3 separate regions of the Homo sapiens genome follow, and regions 2 and 3 are each linked to region 1. The links come from fine-mapping of genetic effects on gene expression. A gene starts in region 1. Each other region holds a variant in brackets. All regions are shown on one strand. Distances are between the middles of the regions.

The links. PIP is the estimated chance that this variant, and not a neighbour inherited with it, causes the effect.
Region 2: its variant is fine-mapped to the expression of NBEAL2 in memory regulatory T cells (Schmiedel 2018, PIP 0.95). The same link has a PIP of 0.9 or more in Th17 cells and follicular helper T cells.
Region 3: its variant is fine-mapped to the expression of NBEAL2 in whole blood (INTERVAL, PIP 0.92).

Annotation. Positions count from the first base shown.
Region 1 is chr3:46,975,914-46,984,266 of GRCh38, forward strand. NBEAL2 (neurobeachin like 2) reads left to right here and starts at 3,753. Exons shown (of 54, transcript NM_015175.3): 1 at 3,753-3,999. The coding sequence starts at 3,949. It overlaps CCDC12 (coiled-coil domain containing 12), which reads right to left and starts at 832. Exons shown (of 7, transcript NM_001277074.2): 1 at 724-832. The coding sequence starts at 819. RefSeq lists enhancers at 19-720, 545-854, 1,424-2,124, 4,027-4,807, 4,808-5,588 and 1 more and silencers at 945-1,084, 3,480-3,669, 3,770-4,109.
Region 2 is chr3:47,042,509-47,050,508 of GRCh38, forward strand. It overlaps SETD2 (SET domain containing 2, histone lysine methyltransferase), which reads right to left. Exons shown (of 21, transcript NM_014159.7): 16 at 3,979-4,113; 17 at 53-192. Among named protein-coding and RNA genes, the nearest start is that of NBEAL2, 67 kb to the left of the region's middle. The variant T/A (reference allele first, on the strand shown) is at 3,839.
Region 3 is chr3:47,078,686-47,086,685 of GRCh38, forward strand. It overlaps SETD2 (SET domain containing 2, histone lysine methyltransferase), which reads right to left. Exons shown (of 21, transcript NM_014159.7): 11 at 7,510-7,629; 12 at 5,035-5,697. Among named protein-coding and RNA genes, the nearest start is that of SETD2, 81 kb to the right of the region's middle. RefSeq lists enhancers at 5,067-5,568, 5,453-5,592. The variant T/A (reference allele first, on the strand shown) is at 4,586.

The DNA.
Region 1 (8,353 bases):
CGGCTCACTACAACCTCTGCCTCCCAGGCTCAAGCGGTTCTCCTGCCATAGCCTCCCGAGAAGCTGGGATTACAGGCGCGCACCACCACGCCCGGCTAATTTTTGTATTTTTAGTAGAGGCGGGGTTTCACCATGTTACCCAGCCTGGTCTCGAACTACTAACCTCAAGTGATCCGCCTGCCTCGGCCTCCCAAAGCACTGGGATTACAGGCGTGAGCCACCGTGCCCGGCCTCTTTTTGATTTTTGCACGAAACGACTCCGGCTGTATACCCACTGCTGTCACTTGCTGCCCTGTCCAAGGAGTGCTGCCGGACTGGGGAGTCTGTCTGACTCAGAATCGAAGGCGGGGGTTAAAGACCAGCTAGGCCATAGAGGAACGGAACAAATCACGCCTAACCCAACAAGCATCTGAACCTACAGGCAGCCCTAGATACCTACACGAGCAACACCCGGGAAGCAGGAGTCAGATGGACTGCGGGTCGCTGACCACTGCCTTGCCCACCCCCGCGCATGCGCGACGACCGCACCAGCGCCAGAGGAGTCCCACGCCAAGCAGCCCCAGACATCGTGGGAGGGCGCCGTCTTCTCGCGCATGCGTTAGCGCCCGCGCATGCGCGCCCTCGGCAGCTGTCTTTCCTTATTAGCCCTTTGCTCTCCTCAAGCGCGACCCGGACCCCGAACGCTGGACGCCTCAACTGCGACCCTCACTCCACACTTCTCACCTTGCGCCCGGTTTTCTCCCGTAGGGCCTTCAGCCGTTCCTTTCGCCGCAACGCCTCTTCCTCTAGCCGGCCCACACCAGCCGTAGTTGCCTCCATCTTGCCCGCGTACGCCCCTCCTTTTCTCCCGTCTTGCATCGCGCAGGCCTAAGGAGAGTGGATAAATGTCTCGCGGCCAATCCAAGGACGAGAATGAGAGACTGGGAGGTCCTGAAAGCCAATCAATGCGGGGTTATTATGGGCGAGCCCTCCCCGCCTTGCCCCGCCCCGCCCCGCCCCGCCCTTATTCTTCCGGACAACTTGCCTAGTGGGTGGGGAGCCAGCAAAAAAAAAAAAGAAAAAAAAAAAAGCTAAGGCTCGATTTATCCAACGCTGATCAGTGAAAGAGCAGCAAGTGGAATTCAGACCTGAGAGAAGGAGAAAAGAGTGCGTCGATCGCTCCGGTTTTGCCCAAGTACTAACCACACTAATCACTCCATGCTGGCCTCTTGGAATGCCCTGACTCATCCTTGTCCACTTGACCTGACAAGGCTCGAATGCCTTCAAGAAACCTTCCCTGGGCCGGGCGCGGTGGCTCACGCCTGTAATCCCAGCACTTTGGGAGGCCGAGGAGGGCGGACCACGAGGTCAGGAGATGGAGACCATCCTGGCCAACATGGTGAAACTCCATCTCTACTAAAAATACAAAAATTAACTGGGCGTGGTGGCGCGTGCCTGTAATCCCAGCTACTCGGGAGGCTGAGGCAGGAGAATCGCTTGAACCAGAGAGGCGGAGGTTGCAGTGAGCCGAGATCGTGCCACTGCACTCCAGCCTGGCAGCAGAGCAAGACTCCGTCTCAAAAAAAAAAAAAAAAAAAAAAAAGCCTTCCCTGATCCTCCACTTCGATCCCACCCTAATACAAGGTATGACTTACACCTCTGCAGCTGTCAGTGGCTCCCCGGACTCACCTGACAAGCGCCCCTAAGCCCCTCTGTGACCACTCTCAGCTCAGACAAAGCCTGCACAGTGAGGGGGACCTGACTGTATGGCTGTTTCCCTCTGGACTCAAAGATGATCCCCTCTCATTCCCATCCCCTCCTGGAGCAGCAAAGTCCTCAGGGTCAAGTTACCTTTCCCGGGGAAGAGCAAACCCCAACCTGGGTCCAGTGGGCCTCAAGTACTGCCCCCAATCCCCAGCTTAGAAAGACTTGGGGTGGCCTCGACTGCAAGTCGCCACAAGATTCATGGCTACCCAGCAGAAGCTGCCAGAGTCTTCTTTCCTGCATGAACTAGAGTGTCCTGATAACCGCGAGACCACTTAGGCTGAAGTCAAGATATTCTTTCAGTATGTGGGGGTCCCCAAAGCCACACCCCCTCTCACTTGGGAATAGGAGACCATGCCGCCCCCTCTCCACCTCCACTGCCAGGGGACAACTAGCCTCTTAGGCTGTTCCCTCCCTGAGTCTTCCCTTCCCAAGCTGGCTACAGGTGGACATCCACTCTTCCCCTTCCAACTCCCTTCAGAGGCCCATGGGCCACAGACTGCAGATCTAGCCCTCCCTTCACTAACCCTCTTGTCCTCACTAACCTGGGTCTGTCTAAGCCTTCTTCCCTGTAGTGGATGGGTTGCTCTGCCAAGGCCTGGCATGCAGTTTGGAGGTGCTCAGGAAACCTCAGCTCAGAGCTATGATGGATGAAGCAGGACAAAAGGCCAGAGGTGAACCAAGAAGCTGGGAGAACAAAACAGGACAGGGTCTCTGTTGTCTTGGCCAACCAAGGTCTAGGAGTCTCCAGACTGGTCAACTCCTGGAACGAGTAGCACCCCTCTGGGCCCAGAAAACTTCTCCCCAGCCCCAACAAAGAGCCTGATCCCTGCCCAACACCAGGGGTTGGGTCCCTGCCACCATCACCCCGTGCCCCTTTCCCCGTGTCCAGACTGTGAGGTAAGGGGATGGGGAAGGGGGCACGGGGTGATGGTGGCAGGGACCCAAAAAAGAGTCAGTCAAGCCTGGGTCCCTGCCCCTGCTGCCCAAGTGGTCCTCATTTGGTCAACTTGGGCCTCAGTTTCTCCATCTGTAAAACAGAGCCGGCCGGGTGCGGTGGCTCATGCCTATAATCCCAGCACTTTGGGAGGTCGAGGCGGGTGGATCATGAAGTCAGGAAATCCAGACCATCCTGGCTAACACGGTGGAACCCCGTCTCTACTAAAAATACAAAAAATTAGCTGGGCCTGGTGACACGCGCCTGTAGTCCCAGCTACTCAGGAGGCTGAGGCAGGAGAATCACTTGAACCCAGGAGGCGGAGATTGCAGTGAGCCGAGATCGAGTCACTGCACTCCAGCCTGGGCGACAGAGTGAGACTCTGTCTCAAAAACAAACAAAAAACAGAGCCATGAGGCACCCACCTGTTGAGGTTAAAGAAACAACATATGTGAAGCAAGTTCTGGGCCCTGGAGTTGGGGAATGGGGGGAGCCCCTCCACTGGAGCGTTTGGGAAGGCTTCCTGGAGGAGGGAGGGGGACCCGTGGCAACGGTCTAAGCCTCTCTGGGATCTGGGAGGGCACCGCGGCCCCGAAGGTATTTCAGGCTAGTCCTGCTACTCTCTAACTTCCCGCCATCACACTCCACAAACAGCTAGAGCTCAAAAGTTGCGTTTCGGTCTTCCCATAAAGCGACAGAGTAGCACCTGGCATTTGATAAGCGCTACAAGGGGTCGTCATGGTGGTGGTGGAGATTATTGTTGAAGGACCCTCGCCACCTCCACGCGGCCCGCCGCCCCTTCCCTGAATGGCGGCAAATGCAGTCAGGCGAGCAGCGTCCTGGGCGGATTCAGACCCTGGGGAAGTCTGGAATTCCTCACCCCGACCCTCGTCCCGGAGGCTCAGGCTGGCCCTTCCAATGGCACTGGTGGGGCAGGGCAGCGGGGCACCCTCCCGGGCCGCCCGGCCCATAGGCCCCTCCTCCTGCCAGGCTCTCCGCCCTTTACATGGTCCCAGGAGAGGCGGGGCGGCGGTGACTGCAGCGAAGTGCAGGAAGCTGGGCGGCGGCCGGCAGTGAGGAGGAGGAGCGAGCAGACTTGGGTGGCTCTGCGCCGCGGAGGCCACAGCCGCAGACTTCCCCAGTAGTACCGCGCCGCTCCGCCCCGGAGTGACGCCCTCCGCCCATGGGCCTGGCCGAGGGCAACCGGCGGGCGGCGCGGAGGAGGCGGCGACAGGTGGCGCGCAGCAGGGCCGGAGCCGGGCCGGGCCATGGCCGCCTCGGAGCGGCTGTACGAGTTGTGGCTGCTCTACTACGCGCAGGTGAGCCCGCCCCGCCCCGCGCCCGCACCCGCACCCGCGGTGCCCCCAGCTTCGCGCGCCCCGCGCCTGCTGCACCTGGCGCCCCGCGCCGCTGGGGCCGCGTAGCCGCGCGCGCGGGCGCGCGCGCGCAGGGCATGCTCCGGCTCCGCACACACGTGTGTGCCCCCAGCCCGCCGGGTGCCTCTGGCACTTATGCCTTGGGGACAGAGCTCGCGGTCGTGCACTTCATAGCAACCCACCCCCGCGAGCAGGACCGTGCAGCCTGAGTCTTTCTTGCTAGAGGAGAGTGGCCTGGGCCGAGGCGGCCGGACACTTGGCCTTTTTACAAATGGGGAAACTGAGACCTGGAGAGACCTGGAGACTGGCCAGGAGGCTAGGGGGAGGGGGACTCAATTTGTCTATGAGCTGCCTCTCCCTTGGGCGCGGCCTGATTGGGTGGTCGTGGCCAACGGGTCTGGGGGTGTGGGCCAAGGTAGGGAGGTGTGTGGAAGGGGAATGCTCCCACTTCAGGTCCTTCTTGAGTTGCATCCCCCCACACCCCAGCGAACAGGCTGTGATAAGCTCTTCCCTGACTTGAAATGACCCACCCCACCCCACCCCCATTCTGAGGGGTAGACCCAGGACCTCTCTAGGAGCAGAAGAAAAGGTTTTCCTCTGGATGCCCAGGGTGAGGGTGGGTCCTTGAGGCCCTGAGGGATGTCTGAAAAGGTTGGAGGGAGGCCCGTTCCTCCTGAGCTCCCCACCCATCTCAGAAAATACTTCAGGTGGAGTCAGAAGGTGAGGGGAGTGACTCAGACGTGGGTGTCCCATCAGCTGAGAACCTGGTATCACTCACACCGTCTCACACACATAGTCCCCCATTTTCCTTCTGTACCCACAGCAGGGAGGGATCCCAGGGTAACACTCCCCTCCCCTTCACCCAGCACCTCCCTCCCTGCACCTGCCTGGCATCATGCTCCTGGCTCAGGTGTGCCCTGGGCACAATGGACCATTGTGTGCCCTGAACAGTTTGTCAGTGGGGGGAATTCATGCTCAGACACGCTGGCCCTCCATAAGGAGGCTGGCCCACTGTCTTCCACGGACCTGGAGTCCAGGCCAGAAGGACCACAGCCTCTTCAGTCCGCTCAGGTTGTGAGAGGTCCAGGCCCCAGCAGGAGGCCAGGCATGGAGTAGAGTCCCTCTTTGGTATAACTCAGATCGAACTCGACTTCTGAGCCTCTGCTTCCTGCCTGTAAAACTGACACAGCCCTGGCCGGGCACGGTGGCTCACACCTGTAATCCCAGCACTTTGGGAGGCCGAGGCGGGCAGATCACAAGGTCAGGAGATCGAGACCATCCTGGCCAACATGGTGAAACCCCATCTCTACTAAAATACAAAAATTAGCCGGGCGTGGTGGGGTGTGCCTGTAATCCCAGCTACTCGGGAGGCTGAGGCAGGAGAATCGCTTGAACCAGGGAGGCAGAGGTTGCAGTGAGCCGAGATCGCGCCACTGCACTCCAGCCTGGTGACAGAGTGAGACTCCGTCTCAAAAAAATAAAATAAAAATAAAAAACTGACACAGCCCTGACCTCAGGGGCTTCCTGGACTCTGTGGAGAGGTAGCCATTATAGCTGGTCCAGACCAGAGAAGGCTCCTGTTTTCCTGGCCCCATTGGGTCCCCTCGCCCCAGCTTCTCTGCCTGCATCCCCAGTGGTTGTGAAGGAGCAGAGGGTTTGAAGAGAAGCCTACCCTAGTCCTCCTTCCTCGGACTGCCCCATAGCTATGGGCAGGCTCTAGGTGCATGGGCAGGTAAAGGGGGCTTAAACCAGCTGGTGAGTGTGAGGGATGTTAATGATAGGTCTTCAGCCTGGGTGGCAGGCTGCTGGGAGTGTCTTGGTATCTCCCAGGACAGTAACTCCAGCATGGTTGCCTCCTGATGCCCCATCTAGCTGAGCTCTGTACATGGCCACCCCCCATCCCCTCAGGAGGTGGTTATGGCTCATATCTGTGCTGAGCCTCCCCCTCCCGGAGCTCCTCACCTCGCAGGGCAGGTATGGAGCATAGGCTGGCAGGTTGTAGCTTTGGAAGCCTGAGCAGACAGTGGGCAGCCTGGGGCCAGGCAAACAAATCCAGGATGTAACAGCAAACCCCCAAGCCAGGCGGGGCCAGGCTGCCTGGGAAGAGGAAGCTAGGGCCAGCCTCCCAGCTCGCCTTCCTGCCCGCCTGCTCCTGACCCTGATCCTGGAACCCCCAATCCAGGGAGGAGTAGGCTATGCAACTTTGAGTCCTGTTAGGGACCTATTGTGTGTGTGCTTGGGGAGGGGGAGTGCAAGGTAAGGGGCAGAGCTGAAAGTGGGTGTTTAGAGACCCTTTAGTTGGCCAGCCACCCAGCCAGCAACACCTGCACCCCTCCCTTCAGCAGTGAGAGCTGACATCAGCTGGCAAACCTGTTTCCCCAGTTGTGGGTCTGGGTGGGGATGGAGAGGGGGGAGTAACTCCTTCCTGCCCTTCCTCTTCCTTAAAGACCCCAGGTTTAGACCCACCCACCCCCTCCCCCTGGGGGCCCGGCTCAACTGGGGGCCTCATAGTGAGGGAGGGGGCTGTGGGTGGCTGCTGAGGGAAGAGGGAAGGGTCAGAGCATCCCAGGACTTCACTCAGTTGGAGCTCCTTAGGGCCCTGGTGGGGAAACCAAGGCAGGGTCCTACTACGATTGTCAGACCTCACATGCAGTAGGTGCTCCTTGGGTATTAGCTGAATGACTGGATAGAGGAGGTGGGTCCCATGGCAGTGACCAGTCAGGAAGTCACCCCAGAGGAGGCTGAGTTTGGGCTTTGAAGGCTGAGAGGAAGAAACAGCAGGAGCAGTGGGACAAGAAGCAAATTGTCAGGAGTTGGGGCAGGGCAGAGCTAGTCAAGCAGGCCTGGTGGACAGGTGGGGGCTCATCTAGAGGACTCAGAGCCCACCAGAGCTCCCCCAGGGTAGGCATAGGAAGGGCAGGAGAGTCTTGGGGGACTGGGGACAGCACCTGACAGGCTGGCGGTTGGGCAGCCCATAAAAGTTAATGCCACATAGCATGCAGATGAGTGGCCCCTGTTCAGGCCGGAGCAGCAGTGATGTTCAGCAACCCCTCCAGTGAATGGGGTCACAGAGTGAGGGGGCACTGAATGTGGAAGGGCACTCAGGGTCACAAAGTTCAGGGCAGAACAAACCCTCAGGTGACAGGAGGGAGCAGAAGCTGACCTGTCCAGCTATGCCACTGAGGCCTCAGAAGGGTTCAGGGAGGTTAGGTCAGGCTGGAGGCAACCTCGTCCTGCCTACACTTCCCTGAGAGTTCCCTCTCCCTAACTGATGATCTCTACTGCCTCTCAGAAACCTGGTCAGGCCCTCCACTCCCCCGGTACTTTACCTGGTCATATTCCTTTTTTTTTTTTTTTTTAGACAGAGTCTCACTCTGTCACCCAGGCTGGAGTGCAATGGCATGGTCTCAGTTCACTGCAACCTCTGCCTCCCGGGTTCAAGCAGTTCTCCTACCTCAGCCTCCCGAGTAGCTCAGACTACAGGCGTGTGCCACCACACCCGGCTAATTTTTGTATTTTTAGTAGAGACGGGGTTTCACTATGTTGGCTAGGCTGCTCTCAAACTCCTGACCTTGTGATCTGCCCGCCTCAGCCTCCCAAAGTGCTGGGATTACAAGCGTGAGCCACCGCACCTGGCTTTATCTGGTCATATCCTTTTTGGGCTTCAGTTTACCTTCCTGAAATGGGTAAAGGGAAGGTGGAGTCACTTCTTTGGTGCTTGGTCCCCTGCCTCTATTACCAAGGCACCTGAAGGAGAAGGGCCTGTAGTGATAGGGAGATGAGCACACAGCCCAGGCTTGGGTGGGCACTGGTGATTCCTGGAGTTGTTATGACAACTGGGGAGCTGATGGGGAAGTGTGGGGTCCCCGTAGAAACAGGGTCAGTTACCATGGGGTCTATGGGGACCCTAGAAGGAAATTCCCATTTTCCTTAGTGATAGTAAAAGGGATTGGTCAGCTCTTGAGCCGCTTGCTTGAACCTACTTCCATTCTGTGGAGTGTACTTTCATTTCAATAAATCTATGCTTTCCTTGCTTAAAAAAAAATAGTGTCCAGGCGCGGTGTTTCACGCCTGTAATCCCAGCACTTTGGGAGGCTGAGGCGGGCAGATCACGAGGTCAGGAGATCAAGACCATCCTGGCTAACACAGTGAAACCCCATCTCTACTAAAAAAAAAAAAAAAAAAAATTAGCCAGGCGTGATGGCGAGTGCCTGTAGTCCCAGCTACTCAGGAGGCTGAGGCAGGAGAATGGTGTGAACCTGGGAGGCGGAGCTTGCAGTGAGTTGAGATCGCGCCA
Region 2 (8,000 bases), 66 kb after region 1:
TTCTTTGATTAAGTAAAAGCAGACATGGGAACGCCCATACAGCTCCTCTTACCTTGTGATCACATGGTAGTAATAAATCTTCCCTTCTGGATCTCGAGCTGTCTTCCAGTTGGGAGGTAAGACAATGGTTTTTGGTTTGGGAGGAGAGGGGGGCGGCAGATCCAAGAGATTATTTGTCACAACCATTTCAGACTACAAAGAAAACACACACATTTTTGATCAGTGATCTCTCTCTTAATCTGGCTGAATAGGACAAAATAGCCCACTTAAATATGTAAAAATGTACATCTACCTCCTCTTAAAAAAAGGATAAAGGAAAGGTACAGTCTGGGAAATAAGGGACAGTATATATAAAGAGGTTTACAGAGCTATCAGAAAATTGACAGTTGGCTCTAAGTTTACCATCCAAGATACCATATAGTTTATCATATAGAGCAGCATTTTTCAACTTTAAAACACCAATTCTAAGGCATATCAACTGCAGGATACCAATTAACTAAATGGGATACAGAAATATCTTTATCTTTAAAAAAAAAAAAAAAGAAAAACCAAAAAACCCCCTGAGAAGCAAATATGACAGAATGTTAACATTATCCATTATATTTTTTCCGTACTTGAAACCTCAAAACTATAAAATATTAGTGCCACATTCTGAAAAACATAAAAACCTCATAATCACTTATGGACTGATTTTTGTTTCCCCAAAACATGTATGTTGAAGCTCTAATCCTGCTGTGACTGTTACTGGGACACAGGGCCTGTAAAGAGCTAATTAAGATTAATGAAGTCAAAAGAGTGAGGACTTTTTATCTAATAGGATGGTGTCCTTATTAAAAGAGAACTGACACCAGAGGACACTCACAGAGAAAAGGTATATACAGCAAGAAGGCAGCCATTTGCAAGCCAAGGAGAGAGGCCTCAGGAGAAACCAACACTGCTGACACCTTGATCTTGGACTTCCAGCCTCAAGAACTGTGAGAAAATTTCTGTTATTTAATCCACTCAGTCTGTGGTATTTTGTTACCGCAGCCCTAGCAGACTAGTAATCACCACAAGGATATATACTTGTTCCTTCTTTCAAGCCTATTAATGAAGAATACATTTTTTACCTTTACCTTTGCTTGCACAGTTAAAGAGGAACCTGAAGACCCCAGGCTCAGATAAAATGTGTTCACTTTTAAGCAAACACGGGTCTTTGAGCATTCTTGCTTTGTGTATACTCTTTTTTATCTCTTATTTCACCCAGCTGGGGTTTTCTGGCCCAGCTTAAGTTTCAATTCCTCCATTACCCTATCCTTTAGCTTATAAAGTGACCTCTTTTCCCCAAGCTTCTGTGTCCCTTAATATTCCAAACCATTTATCTCTTAATAGTTTAAGGCAAAAAAGAAAAAATATATATTCCAAACCATTCAGTACTTATTCCCAACACAAAACTTTATTTTTAGTGTAGTCACCATCTTTCTCTTGTGATCATCATCTCTCTTATTTGAAAGATCAGCTTTTAAGAATACAAATGGAAACTTATTTATGTTTGTATTAAAAATGCCTAGTCGGCCAAGCACAGTGGCTCATGCCTGTAATCCCAGCACTTTGGAAGGCCGAGGCAGGTGGATCACGAGGTCAGGAGTTTGAGACCAGCCTGGCCAACATAGTGAAACCCTGTCTCTACTAAAAATACAAAAGTATTAGCCAGGTGTGGTGGTGTGCACTTGTAATCCCAGCTACTCAGGAGGCTGAGGCAGGAGAACTGCTTGAACCTGGGAGGCGGAGGTTGCAGTGAGCCGCGAGATCAAACCACTGTACTCCAGGCTGGGCAACAAAGCAAGACTTCATCTCAAAAAAAAAAAAAAAAAAAAAAAAAAAAAAAAAAAAAAAAAAGGCCTAGAAGGGCTCAACTCGTAACAAGCACTCAAACATCTGCTCTAAGTACACATTATCTTATTATCCTGTTATTTCACATATAGTATTTTTAGTCCATCTTCACTAACTGTCCTGTCTAAAGTCATCATCAATTGCTGGATTGCTGCAAGAGCTTTCTCCAGAACTGTAGGTGTTCTAAAGTGCTGATTTGACCATGCTATTCTGTTTAGTTTTTTCAGTTGTTTCCCATGCCAACCTCTTATTTTCCACTTTATCCAAAAACAACAACACTTTGAGATTTCACCATATCCTCCTACATATGTTGCAGAATACCAAAAGCTTATCTTAATATTAAACATCATATAAAAAACTTTTTTTAAACATTGTACAACATGTATAGTGAAGTATATCACACAATTCTACATGCCTAGTCCATGGTGACTAGTACAGTATCATATTCTAGTACAGGTTAAGCAGCCCTAATACAAAAATACAAAACATTTTGAGTGCTGACATGACACTCAAAGGCCATGTTCAAAGGAAATGCTTATTGGAATATTTCAAGCTATACATTTTCAAATTAGAGATGCTCAAGTGGTAATTATAGTGCAGATATTCCAGAATCCATAAAATTCTGAAATGTGAAATACTTCTGGTCCCGTGAAGCTCAGATAAGGGATACTCAACCTGTACGCGGTAAATACTGATAGATAGCTGGTCTAGGAAATTGTTACTTCGGCCAGGTGTGGTGGCTCACGCCTGTAATCCCAACACTTTGGGAGGCTGAAGCGGGCGGATCATGAGGTCAGGAGTTCAAGACCAGCCTGGCCAACATGGTGAAACCCCGTATCTAAAAATACAAAAATTAAGGTTGGGCACAGTGGCTCATCCCTGTAATCCCAGAACTTTGGGAGGCCAAGGCGGGTAGATCACGAGGTCAGGAGATTGAGACCATCGTGGCTAACACAGCGAAACCCCGTCTCTACTAAAAATACAAAAATTAGCCAGGCGTGGTGGCGGGCGCCTGTAGTCCCAGCTACTCAGGAGGCTGAGGCCGGAGAATGGTGAGAACCCAGGAGGCGGAGCTTGCAGTGAGCCGAGATCATGCCACTGCACTCCAGCCTGGGCGACAGAGCAAGACTCCATCTCTTAAAAAAAAAAAAAAAAAAAAATACAAAAATTAGCTGGGTGCAGTGATGCACACCTGTAGTCCCAGCTACTCAGGAGGCTGAGACAGGAGAATCACTCGAACCCAGGAAGTGGAGGTTGCAGTGAGCCAAGATCGTGTCACTGCACTCCAGCCTAGGTGACAGAGTTAAAAAAAAAAAAAAATTATTACTTCAAAAATTCATAGTAAAATATAAAAATACAAGGTCAGGGTAAACAACAAATAAAAAGGATCCTAGGAGCATTTTTTTTTTTTTTGAGATGGAGTCTTGCTCTGTCACCTGGGCTGGAGTGCAGTGGCGCGATCTTAGCTCACTGCAAGCTCCGCCTCCCAGGTTCACGCCATTCTCCTGTCTCAGCCTCCTGAGTAGCTGGGACTACAGGTGCGGAGCAAAATATGTATTAACGGAACTATAAATTCCACAGAATTAAAAAAATTTTTTTTTTACAAAATGGTTGAGTTCACGCCCTCAGGGTGGCTCAGGTGAATTTGGTGGCTACACAAATTTAAAAACGGGCCGGGCGTGGTGGCTCATGCCTATAAATAATCCCAGCACTTTGGGAGGCTGAGGCGGGTGGATCACCTGAGGTCATGAGGTCAAGACGAGCCTGGTCAACATGGGGAAACTCCGTCTCTACTAAAAATACAAAATTAGCCAGGCGTGGTGGCACACACCTGTAATCCCAGCTACTCAGGTGGCTGAGGCAGGAGAATCGCTTTAAACCAGGAGGTGGAGGTTGCAGTGAGCCAAGATTGTGCCGCTGCACTCCAGCCTGGGTGACAGAGCGAGACTCTGTCTCAAAAAAAAAA[T/A]AAAATAAAATAAAATAAAACAAAGAACACGTGAAAAAAAAACCCAAAAATAAAACCCAAAACAAATCCAAACCAAAAAGAAAACCTTCCAAAGACAAAGTAGACAGCCAATGAGTTTTAACAACTGAAACATTTCTTACTGGCTGCAAGGGCTGAGGCTGCCCTGGTGCAACTATTGTAGTCACTGCTGCGGCTGGCTGTACCACCACTCCTTGTGGATGAGCTGTGAAAATCTGTTGCCCCTGGATATACTGAAGACTTGGCTGGGCATAACTCTAAAAGATAAAATGAAGAAATCAATAATTTAAGCTTTTGTCACTTTAATAAACAGACTGACTTCCAAGTTGGCACAATCTTAAAGATATACCCATAACATTTTAAAATTTTTTGTTTATATATTTGGACATAAATGTGCAAAACAATTTTTTGTTTCAAACCCCAAAGTTTCTTTTTTTACTAATTCCCTATTCATTTACTTACTTTGATTTTACTTTATCATAAGAAAATAAAAGCTTTTTTTTTTTTGGTCATAGAAATTCTCCAACTGTTTAGCTTTCAATGACATTGGAATGACATTGAAAATTAAACAGGTGGACAGTTTCTATAAGCAAAAACCAATGAAGTGCTGCTCCTGGGATATCCAAGAAACAATGCCACGCTGCTCTTTTCAGGAAGGCTTTTGCTACCAACTTGTAATAACAAACAGGTTGTTTGGATCAGAAAAGGTCAAAGGGTGTGAATCATAGTAAATAAGATGATCAAATTTTAAGCTACCTTTTGTTTTAGCTTTTTGTAGTCTTCTATGATAAAACCCCTTGGCAGAAAGCAGAATCAATGCATCTGAAATTCTCACAACACACCAATTTATACAGTGTTCTATGATGCAAGAAGCCCCTTAACATACATCATCTCATTTAGTGCTGACCACCATCAAAACCAGGTACTGCCCATGCCTGGAGTTTCATAAGAAATAAGTACTATGCTAGGGCTTAAACCTACTCTGTAATTATTTCTCAAGCATAGAAAATCTGCTTAAATAAGAAGAGGTGATAAGAAGACTGAAAAATAGCCTTGCTGTCCTAAGAGGTGGTGACTGTTAAGGAATTGAATAGACATGTATCCTGTGCTTAAGGAGAGATTTTGCTCCTATGGACTGAGATTCTAGCAGGTAAAATGATTACAGAAACATCAAATGCTAAGTACTCAAAATACAAAATATAATTCCAAATGACACCAGTAAAAACTCAAGTAGTCTGAATAGGCAATGCAGCTATCTAGCAGGTTTCTGAATGAATAATTACTGACAGGACACAGGAAAAAGGAAAAGAACACTTAATTTGGTATTCTGGATCAGCTTAATCTACTTGGATAATAAACCAGACTGAAAAACATTAATTGTTAAGGCAGAATTACCATCAGAATAGTATCACAAAGCCTGAGAGGAAAATGTACAGTCATGTATTGCTTAACAAGGGGGGTACATTCTGAGAAATGCATTGTTAGGAGATTTCATTGTTGTGGTAACATCATATAATGTACTTTCACAAACCTACTAAGTGTATGAGGTACTTACACATCATACAGTGTACTTCACAAATCTATTAGATACCTAGGCTATATGGTATAGTCTGTTGTTCCTAGGCTACAAACCTGTACAGCATGTTTCTGTAATAAAGACTTGTAAGCAACTATAACTTAACAGTATCTGTGTATCTAAACATGGAAAAGTTACAGTAAAAATACAGTATAAAAATTTTTTAGGCCGGGGCACGGTGGCTCACACCTGCAACCCGAGCACTTTGGGAGGCCAAAGTGGGCGGATCACGAGGTCAGGAGATCGAGACCATCCTGGCTAACACGGTGAAATCCCATCTCTACTAAAAATACAAAAAATTAGCCAGGCATGGTGGCATGCACCTGTAGTCCCAGCCACTCAGGAGGCTGAGGCAGAAGAATCGCTTGAACCCAGGAGGTAGAGGTTGCAGTGAACCGAGATGGCACCACTGCACTCCAGCCTGGGCAACAGAGCGAGATGCCGTCTCAAAAAAACAAAATTTAAATGGTACACCTGTATAGGGAACTAACTATAAACAAAGCTTGCAGGACTGGAAGTTGCTTTGAGTAAGTGAGTGGTGAGTGAGTGAATATGAAGGCCTAGGACATTACTGTACACTACTGTAGACTATAAACACTTGGGCTACACTAAGTTTATTAACATTTTTTTAATAAATTAACTGTAACTTACTATAACTTTTTTACTTTATAAACAAATTTTTTCAACTTTTTAACTCTTTTATAACACTTATCTTAAAATACAAACACATTCTACAGCTGTATAAACAACCCTCCTCCCTCCTCCTCGCCAGGGTGGAGAGCAGTGGTGCGATCTGGGCTCACTGCAACCTCCACCTCCCGGGTTCAAGCAATTCTCCTGCCTCAGCCTCCCGAGTACCTGGGACTACAGGTGCGTGCCACCACGCCTGGCTAATTTTTTTTATTTTAGCAGAGACGGGGTTTCACCATGTTGGCCAGGATGGTCTCCATCTCCTAACCTTGTGATCTGCCCACCTCAGCCTCCCAAAGTGCTGGGATTACAGGTGTGAGCCACCGTGCCTGGCCTATATTTTTTTTAAAAAAGAGTCTCATTCTGTCACCCAGGCTGGAATGCAGTAGTGTGATCATAGCTTACTGTAGCCTTGAACTCCTGGACTGAAGCAATCCTCCCATCTCAGCCTCCCGAGTATGTGCCACCACGCCCAGCTAATTAAAAACAAATTTGTAGAGACAGGGTTTCGCTATGTTGTCTAGGCTAGTCTTGAACTCTTGTGTTTGAGTGATTCTCCTGCCTTGGCCTCCCAGATTGCTGGGATTACAGATGTGAGACAACACACTGGGCCAAATATTTTTTTTATATCCTTATTCTTATTCTATAAGTTTTTTATAGAATAAGTTTTCTAAATATATATATATATATATATATATATATATATATATATATATATGTATTCTTATATATATAAACTTATTCTTTTTTTTTTTTTTTTGAGACAGAGTCTGGCTCTGTCGCCCAGGCTGGAGTGCAGTGGCACGACCTCGGCTCACTGCAAGCTCCGCCTCCCGGGTTCACGCCATTCTCCTGCCTCAGCCTCCCGAGTAGCTGGGACTACAGGTGCCCACCACCACACCTGGCTAATTTTTTGTATTTTTAGTAGAGATGGGGTTTCACCTTGTTAGCCAGGATGGCCTCGATCTCCTGACCTTGTGATCCGCCCGCCTCAGCCTCCCAAAGTGCTGGGATTACAGGTGTGAGCCACCGCGCCTGGCCTATATATAAACTTATTCTATGAGTTTATATTATATATTAAATATATAAACTTATTCTGAGTTTATATTATATATTATATATATAAACTTATTCTATGAGTTTATATTATTATATATAAACTTATTCTGAGTTTATATTATATATATTATATATATAAACTTATTCTGAGTTTATATTATATATAATATATAAATTTATTCTGAGTTTATAGTATATATTATATATATAAACTTATTCTGAATTTATATATTATATATAAACTTATTCTATAAGTTTATATATTTGTACATATATTTATATGTTTTTCTTATATATATAAATTTATGTTTCTTATATATATAAACATATATATATATGGGAAAAACATACATTTTGATAGAGGAAACATGACCAAGTATTTCATAGATCAGTAAGGTATCTATATTTTAGAATAATCTTATTGTATATTTCAAAATAGCTAGAAGAGAATAATTGAATGTTTCTAGCATAAAGAAAAGACAAATATTTATGGTGATGGATATCTCAATACACTGATTTTTACAAATTATATGAATATATTAAATTATCACATGTACCCTGAAAATATGTACACCTATTATGTATCAACATAAAAAAACAAAAACTAAGATATAAACACACACACTAGCCTAGGCTTACACGGAGTCAGGATCATCAAGATGTCAGAAGGCCAGAAGAATTTTTCACCTCCATAATAATCTTACGAGGATCACTGTCATAAATGCCATCTGTTGTTGACCAAAACGCCATTGCATGGCACATGATTGTATTTATGTACAGGCTGAGCATAAACATTTCTGATTTCCCTAATCAGAAATC
Region 3 (8,000 bases), 100 kb after region 1:
TACACAATATCCAGGGGCATCATATCTATAACTTAGTTGTTGTTGTTTTGTTTTGTTTTTTTTTACACAAAGTCTCACTCTGTCATCCAGGCTGGAGTGCAGTGACACCATCATGGATCACTGCAGCCTCAACCTCCTGGGCTCAAGCAATCCTCCCACCTCAGCCTCCCAAGTGGCTGGGACTACAGGCATGTGCCACCATGCCTCGCTAATTTTTTAGTTTTTGTAGAGACAGGGTTTTGCTTTGTTGCCCAGGCTGGTCTTGAACTCCTGGGCTCAAATGATCTGCCCACCTCTGCTGTAACTTACTTTTTTAAAGTTCAGAAACAGAAAACAATAAAAAAAATAAGGTAAAATGTTAACACTGGGGAATCTCAGTGAAAAGTTTAGAGGAATTTTTCACTGAATTTTCTCTAGACTCGTCACTAGAATGTGTGTAACATGTAGAATATGTACAGAATGCTGTTCTTGCAGTTTTTCATTGAGCCTGAAATTATATCATAATTAAAAGTTTAAAGTATTAAGAAGGAAAATGTATGTGTTTTCATTATGGTTACTATAAGACTTAAATTATACTGCCTACATCTATACTAAAACAGTCTCAAGTTTCTGACTTGGTCACAGTCCTAAGGGAATAACAATATTCCTTAATGATCACTTCTAGCTTGGAAATTCTATAATGTATACACCCTCCCACCTCTCAAGATAGTTGTACAACCAAATCACTTCCTAAACAGCATCAAGACTTTTTTAAAAAAACTAATTTCATGGGCAGCAATAGAAACATGATCATTATGTCTTTAGGGAAACAGAATTAAGAGCTCACCCAAAAGAGTAAAGTGAAAATGACTTCATTCAAAACCAGAATGTTTAGAGCAGCCAGATTCTGCACTTTATCTTTTAGATCAGATGTTGGCAAACTTTTTCTGTAAAGGACAAGATAGTAAATATTTTAGGCTTTGTGAGCCATCCAGTCTTTCTCACAACTACTCAACTCTACCACTGAAGTACAAAAGCAGCCACAGATGATAGTACATAAATGAATGAACATGGCTGTGTTTCAAAGAAAATTTTATTTACAAAAACAGACAGTGGGGCAGATTTGGCCAACCCTTGATTTAGATGAAAGTATTTGGTTAAAAAATGGACCAATAAATTTTAGACCATTTTTGCCTTCTACCAAACGAGACATTTATTTAAAAATTTCAATGTTGCTGTAGCTAAAACAGCATTCTTTAGGGGCAATTCTAATTTTGTTAAAGGATAAGTAATATTAATCCTTATGGATACAGAATAATCTTACTCTAGTAAGAATTCAAAAATTATCACAGAAATCCAGGAAACATAATTTCATTTTCAAATGTTGCACAGCAGATTTCACATACAATATTAGCGAGGGAGTGAAATTCCAAACAGTGACTCAAAACTTCTCAGTTTAGGCAACTCTATGTTTTATTTTAACTTTTCATAGAGAGTTTTAATACATAGCTTTCTAGGGAAATACTTGATTTGCTGAATTAAAGATAATGTCTTGAGATAAAGATGAAATAAGAGAAGAATAAGAATAGTCATTAGGAAGAGTTCAACTTATCACATGTAGGTAATTTTGTCCCTAAATCATCTAAATCCAGATGCAAATGGAAATACCCAGACTTCATTCTAAGGAGAAATGCACATCCTATAATCTAAGTGTTTATAAGAGAGGCTCTGGAATCACTAACCATTACAATCTCTCGGTGTTTAATGGCAAATGAAATTGCCAAGTTCACAGGAACCTTACCTCCTCTTCTTATGATCCAAATGAATGAAGATATTCCAGTCAAGTTACACTTAGTCACCACTGGTAACCAGCTGTTTTGCCCTATGAAGTCTAGGGTATATTTTCAGCATGAAGGGTGATATGCAACAATTTCTTCTGCAAACAGAAATATATGCACATATCCCTGCTGAAAATGTAGCCTAGTAAATTTTCACATGAAAATGAATACATGCTCACAAGTGGCAATGTGCTAGGTGATGTTTCTGGTTGAGGTCTACTTTAGGAGTCAAAATGTGTAAGCCTTGTGGAGTCAAGGCAGTGGTCCTGTGTATATAGGTATAGAAAAAGTAGCTCACTTAATCCTTTCTCGCCAGGAGTAGGGATTTTCCCGGAACGACATCCATTGTCGGCAATGGACGCACCAAAATAACGCCGGCGCCAGTGAGTTAACCACCTCTGTCCTCTTTTCACCTATTATATTTTTCATGCATCATCCAACTTCCCAACCATCTTCCTGTTTCTTCACAGAATGCACGCTAGGTTCTCGTTTTTCTTCAGCACGAAGTTGGAAATGGAGTTGAGAAAAGGAGACACATGGTCAGCTGGTGATGTTAACAAGCTCCTTGCTGCCCTGAGAAGCTAGATGGAAATGGTTCAAGTTACAAGGGGGATCATCATCAGATCTGGGAGGACAAAGAGTAATTCATGAAGCTTCATTCCCTTCCCTCCCACCCTCTTTCATTTACTGATGATTCCTATAGTCTGCCATCACAGCAAAACCAAGATTAAGGAATCTGAAGCAATCCCTTTCTGTTCTTCACTCCATCCAGTGTGTAGAAAAGCCAAGCGGAACACATGTCCACCAATGTTATGGTGGCCCCCGGTTGGCTGGGGAGACTTGAAATGGCCATAACCACATAACCACAATCTTAGACCAATGCTTTTTAGTACGATCTTGGAATTAAAGATCAGCAACTAACACAGTGTTTGACAATAGGTGCCTAATAAAGGTTGGTTGAATAAGACATTTTCTTTTCAGCCAATGTCTACTCGAACACATAGGTGGAAGTCAGACAGAAGTAGTTAACTCTTTCAATGCCGGGATCGTATGGATATACAGTAATCACATCATGTCAATGTGTTTCTCTAAAACATGTTCAAATTATGGATTCCTGATTTCAGACTTCTGGTTAAATGCTATCTATGTTTGTCTGGTTTTTTTAAGAACCACCATAATCAGAGTTTTGAAAACAGAGCCATAGTAAATGTTAATTAGAATGATGGATGAATTAAGAACCCCAGCACCAATGTATAACAAAACATCACAGTTCACAGTCAAGTAAAAACATTTCTCAGTAATACAATTCTAGATGGGTAATGATTCCAGAGCAAACTAAAGTTTGAAGAAGAGAGGAGAATTTTACTTAACGGCTCCCTTGACACTAAGAATCAGGAAAAATCCAAAGTATGAAGGATAAGAAGGATATATTTTAAGTACAAATAAAGTTTTAAACCTCAAATCAAGAGGATCATCAAGCTACATATAAAATTGCTTTGATGTTTCAGATAGGAGTGGGGAAGATAAGAAGAAGGGGAAGAAATAATTTTGTAGGACTCAAATGTGTGTCCAGAGTGTGAGTTTAAATTACCATGGTTACATCTAATTGGGTTAAGTATATCCTAGAGAGTAATTCATACCATCACAATTACAGAAACCCACTATCATACGAAGAAACAAGAATATTTACTTTTTCCAGATTTTAAGATAGCTTTACAATGATTACTTCTTAGCAGTTTTAAAAAATAACATCAACCAGAGACTTCTCCGGCAAAAGTAAACTACTGGTCTACAACCCTACTTATTCTTCCTTCCATAAAAGTACAGCTATAAAGGCCTTTTCTGTGTCCATTTGTGTACTTGTCTTCATCTCCACCTTCTTAACTGAGCTTCTTTACAGGCTCCACTAGCAGCCTCCAAACACAAGAGGGACTCCTTTTAGGGACTCCTGTGCTGTCACAAAGCAGGCCTTAAATAAAAATCCATCAAGTGACTATCCCAGCACTTCTTTCAATTAACTGCAATTCTGATTCCTGCAGTTCACATACTGACTTCATAAGTAAATTTACTACGAACTCTTCCTTTCATATTTAGAAAAAGGCCTGATTTCCTAAGACATAATAAGGCTGACTTTATACTGAATTGTAAGTGATGAAAGTAACATGAGTAAGAGCTCAAATGGGTAAACAAAAGCTGAAACCACAACATACTTAAAGAAGGGTCTCAACACAGCAAATGAGGAAGCATAGTACACAACCACCAACTACTCATTTTGCTCAGTGTTTAAGGCCAGTTTCATTGGGTCAAATCACAGGATCTAATGGAGTGAGCTTTGTCATCATAATTAGGGGCAGGGAGGATTCAGGTGTTCATCTTGCTGCAAAGAGTCAGGATTGCTGGTTTATTTGGTTGCTTCATCTCCGGCAGAAGAAAGGAGGAACAGAAAAATAGAAGCTAGTTAAGTAACCTGTTCCCACAGGGTCCTCAAGACGTGGATCCCAAGTCCAGATCACTTACAAATGAAATGTACCACACCTCTCCTAGGTTTATCCTGTTATTCATTCTTGTGTTTATCCAAGACTCAGTCTGGGTTTTCTGCAAAGCAAACCCTGCACATCTTGCTACATTCTTCAACAAGAGATTATGTATGTAATAGGCATAAGAGTTCCAGATCTATTTTTCCTCTTTTGTCCAAAGAAATAGGCATTTAAAAGCAGGCCCATTTCAGAAACAATAATAGAAGTGAATACGAACTAGTTCCATAAAGT[T/A]GTTTTTCTAAAATAAAAATTTACATTCAATCATTTTTAGTAAGCTGCTAAATTATCTTAGTTTTCCAATTATTTTTAATTTTCCATTAATACAACTGATTTCCAATAAATTTAAACACTAATTTTTTCTCATTACAAATAGAATCCTAAGTTTGCTCCTCAAAGGATTTTTGTTTTTAATGTGAAGAGCACTTAAATGACTGAACTCACTATTGTGATGTACTTTTCTAAGTGACAGAAAAGAAGACATTTGTATATTAGTTTGGCTAATATGACTCTTGCCACGGTTTAGAGGATGTTTGAGACACTTATAAATAAAACAGTAAGAGAGACAGTATTCCATTTTTCAGAAATATGCATGGCTAAAAAAAGTAGTTAATTTTGCTTAGGTTTGTAGAACTCTAAACCTGAGTAATTCAAGTTGAAATGAACAAAAGATGCTTCCTTACCTTTAGGTCTTTCCAACTGTCCAGGAGTTTGGTGGCCAAATCACTTATATCCACTGTTTTATCTGGCTGTTCTTGGCTCCTTTCACTCTCCACATCAGACACACCCTCCTCTTCATCTTGGGATGGTGTTTCTTCATTAATAGGTTCTTCTAGTTTTGTGCCGTTGCTCTCTTTGGGCTCTATTTCAGCGTCAGCTTCTGGTTCAGATGTAGGTAGCTTACTAGCTTCTATGTTGGTTTCACTATCAACTTTGCATTCAGGCAGCTGTTGTGGGAGTAGCTGTTGTGACTGCAATTCTTCCTCTTCCTCTACAGGGACATTTTCTAATTGATCAAGATCCTCTTTGCCATCCTTGCCTTCTAGCTCACTGGTTGCATCAGAGATTGCACTGTCCATGCTATTTTCACTTATAATTTTCAGTCTGCGAAACATTAGTTTCTTGGGAGTGTCTGTGTCAGCTTCTGTGCTCAGCTTGGTGGAAGGATCAGGTGTGTTGAGTGGTGTATGAGCACGCGATGTATTCTCACTAGAATACCCATCTCCTTCACTCAACGGAGGGACAGCAGTCTTAGTCTGAGACCAGCGTTGAATAATTGGAAGTACTTTGCTTTCCTCCAACATATTTTTAGTAGGAATGGGCAAGTGTTCCAAAGTCTTTATAATCTGATTAAACATAAAAAAAAATTACATCACTTTGTACAGTTGACTTTTTTTTTTTTTTTTGAGACAGAGTCTCACTCTGTCACCCAGGCTGGAATGCAATGGCATGATCTTGGCTCACTGCAACCTCTGCCTCCTGGGTTCAAGCAATTCTCCTGTCTCAGCCTCCCAAGTAGCTGGGAGTACAGGCGCTAGCTGCCACGCCTGGCTAATCTTTTGTATTTTTAGTAGAGACAGGGTTTCACCATGTTGGCCAGGCTGGTCTCAAACTCCTGACCTCAAGTGATCCACCCACCTCGGCCTCCCAAAATGCTGGGATTACCAGCATGAGCCACCACACCTGGCTACAGTTGATTTTGTTTTTTTTTTGAGATGGAGTTTCGCTCTTGTTGCCCAGGCTGGAGTGCAATGATGTGATCTTGGTCACTGCAATCTCTGGCTCCCTGGTTTAAGCGATTCTCCTGCCTCAGCCTCCCGAGGAGCTGGGATTACAGGGATGCACCACCATGCACAGCTTTTTTTTTTTTTTTTAGTAGAGATGGGGTTTCTCCATGTTGGTCAGGCTGGTCTTGAACTCCTGACCTTAGGTGATCCACCTGCCTCAGCCTCCCAAACTGCTGGGATTACAGGCATTGAGCCACAGCGCCTGGCCTACAGTTGACTTTTTCAATTTCTGGATGGGACTCAGATTATTTCTGCAAGAGTAGTGCAGTTTTGCTACTGCTTTATTAAGAACTACATCTCTGTAAACACAAGCATATTTAAAAATCATAATATTGTTTTCCTTAAGAAAGAAAAACTTTTAATAAGACTGATCAGCAAGAATCACAACATCAAATAGGACTGATTAATATTCTCTACCAGTAGTTCCTAAACCTGGGTAGCTTTTTAAACATATACACTACTGGACCAATCCTGGGTATCTTTTCTTAAAAAGTTTACCAAGTGTCTGTGATATACACTTAGCAGCTATGTAACAACATATTTAAATGATGTCTGTCATACACACAAAAATGCAGACATCTCTTCAGCTTTTGATAAACAGCTGTCTAGCAAAGAGAGATCCCCTCCTCATTCTTAGACAACCTCCCCCATTTTGAAATCCAAGAATTTTTTCTGAAGTATTCCTCAATGTAGTTCCACAGAAACCCCAAGGCTTCCTCAATTTCCTCAAGCCAAATCTCCTGGGAGAAGGACAGAGGCAAGAACAAGTACTTATCTGCCCATTCCTTTTTGTTTGTTTTTAAAAGTGTTTTATTAAATAAAAGACTCTGGGATTATATTACAAATTAGAAAGTTAGAAAATTTTATTAATTTCATAGAAAGGTAAAGACATCGTAACTCCACTAATAATGCTGCCAATGAACCTTTACTTAGATCTTTTAAAACACTTATTTAAAAGATTCCTCAAAATGTTCATACTCTTGTTATGCAGAATTCAGATCTTTACCAATTCTTTAGACCCCACAGTTCAAATTTTATATGACTTCCCATCTTTTTAAAACTCTGGTTTTAACAACAAACTGGATCTTTCACTTAACTATGTTGTTGTTATTATATCTTGCTCTTGTAGTTCCCTGCTATGTAGTACCAACTTTAAAAAGATACTATAGGAAAACCATGGGACAAACTACTAACAAGGTGTATGTACGGTTAGATACGTTAAAGGAATGATACTGAGATGAAAAAATTATTTGATTATTTAATACCAATGATACAGTGCTAAATTCATAATTACTGATATTATCACATATCCACAACCGAGGCAATCAATATAACAGTTTTAAGAAACAAGCAAGCTAAATGTGAACTGACCTCTTCCTGAAGCTTCTGGTTACTTTCCCGGCCGTCACCTAGCTCTGCCATCCAGATCCACAACAAAGACAGCCCATGACGTTCCAGAAAGGACTTCAGGCAGGACTGTGAGTGTGTGTTCTTTCATGGGGGAAGGGAGACACGATGCAGAGCATTGGGAGGCAATATCAGAATATTACAAAGAGCCCGAGGAGAGTTCATGTATACGTTACACATTATAGGGTTCACTTACATTCACAAAAAAAACCTAGAAACTCTGTTTTCATTAGCCTAAATAGAACTCTACAACAAATGCTTTAAACAGATTATAATCTTCTCTGATACACAAAATACAGCCAGTCAACTGGGATTTTACTAACGTAGAAAATTATATGAATATTAATAGGTCATTTATAATGAAAATTCTGAAGAACTAAGAAAAAATTGCATCTAACTTTTTAAATAAAGCTAAAACCATAAAAATTAGTCCTTAAATAATTCTTTCTTCTCTC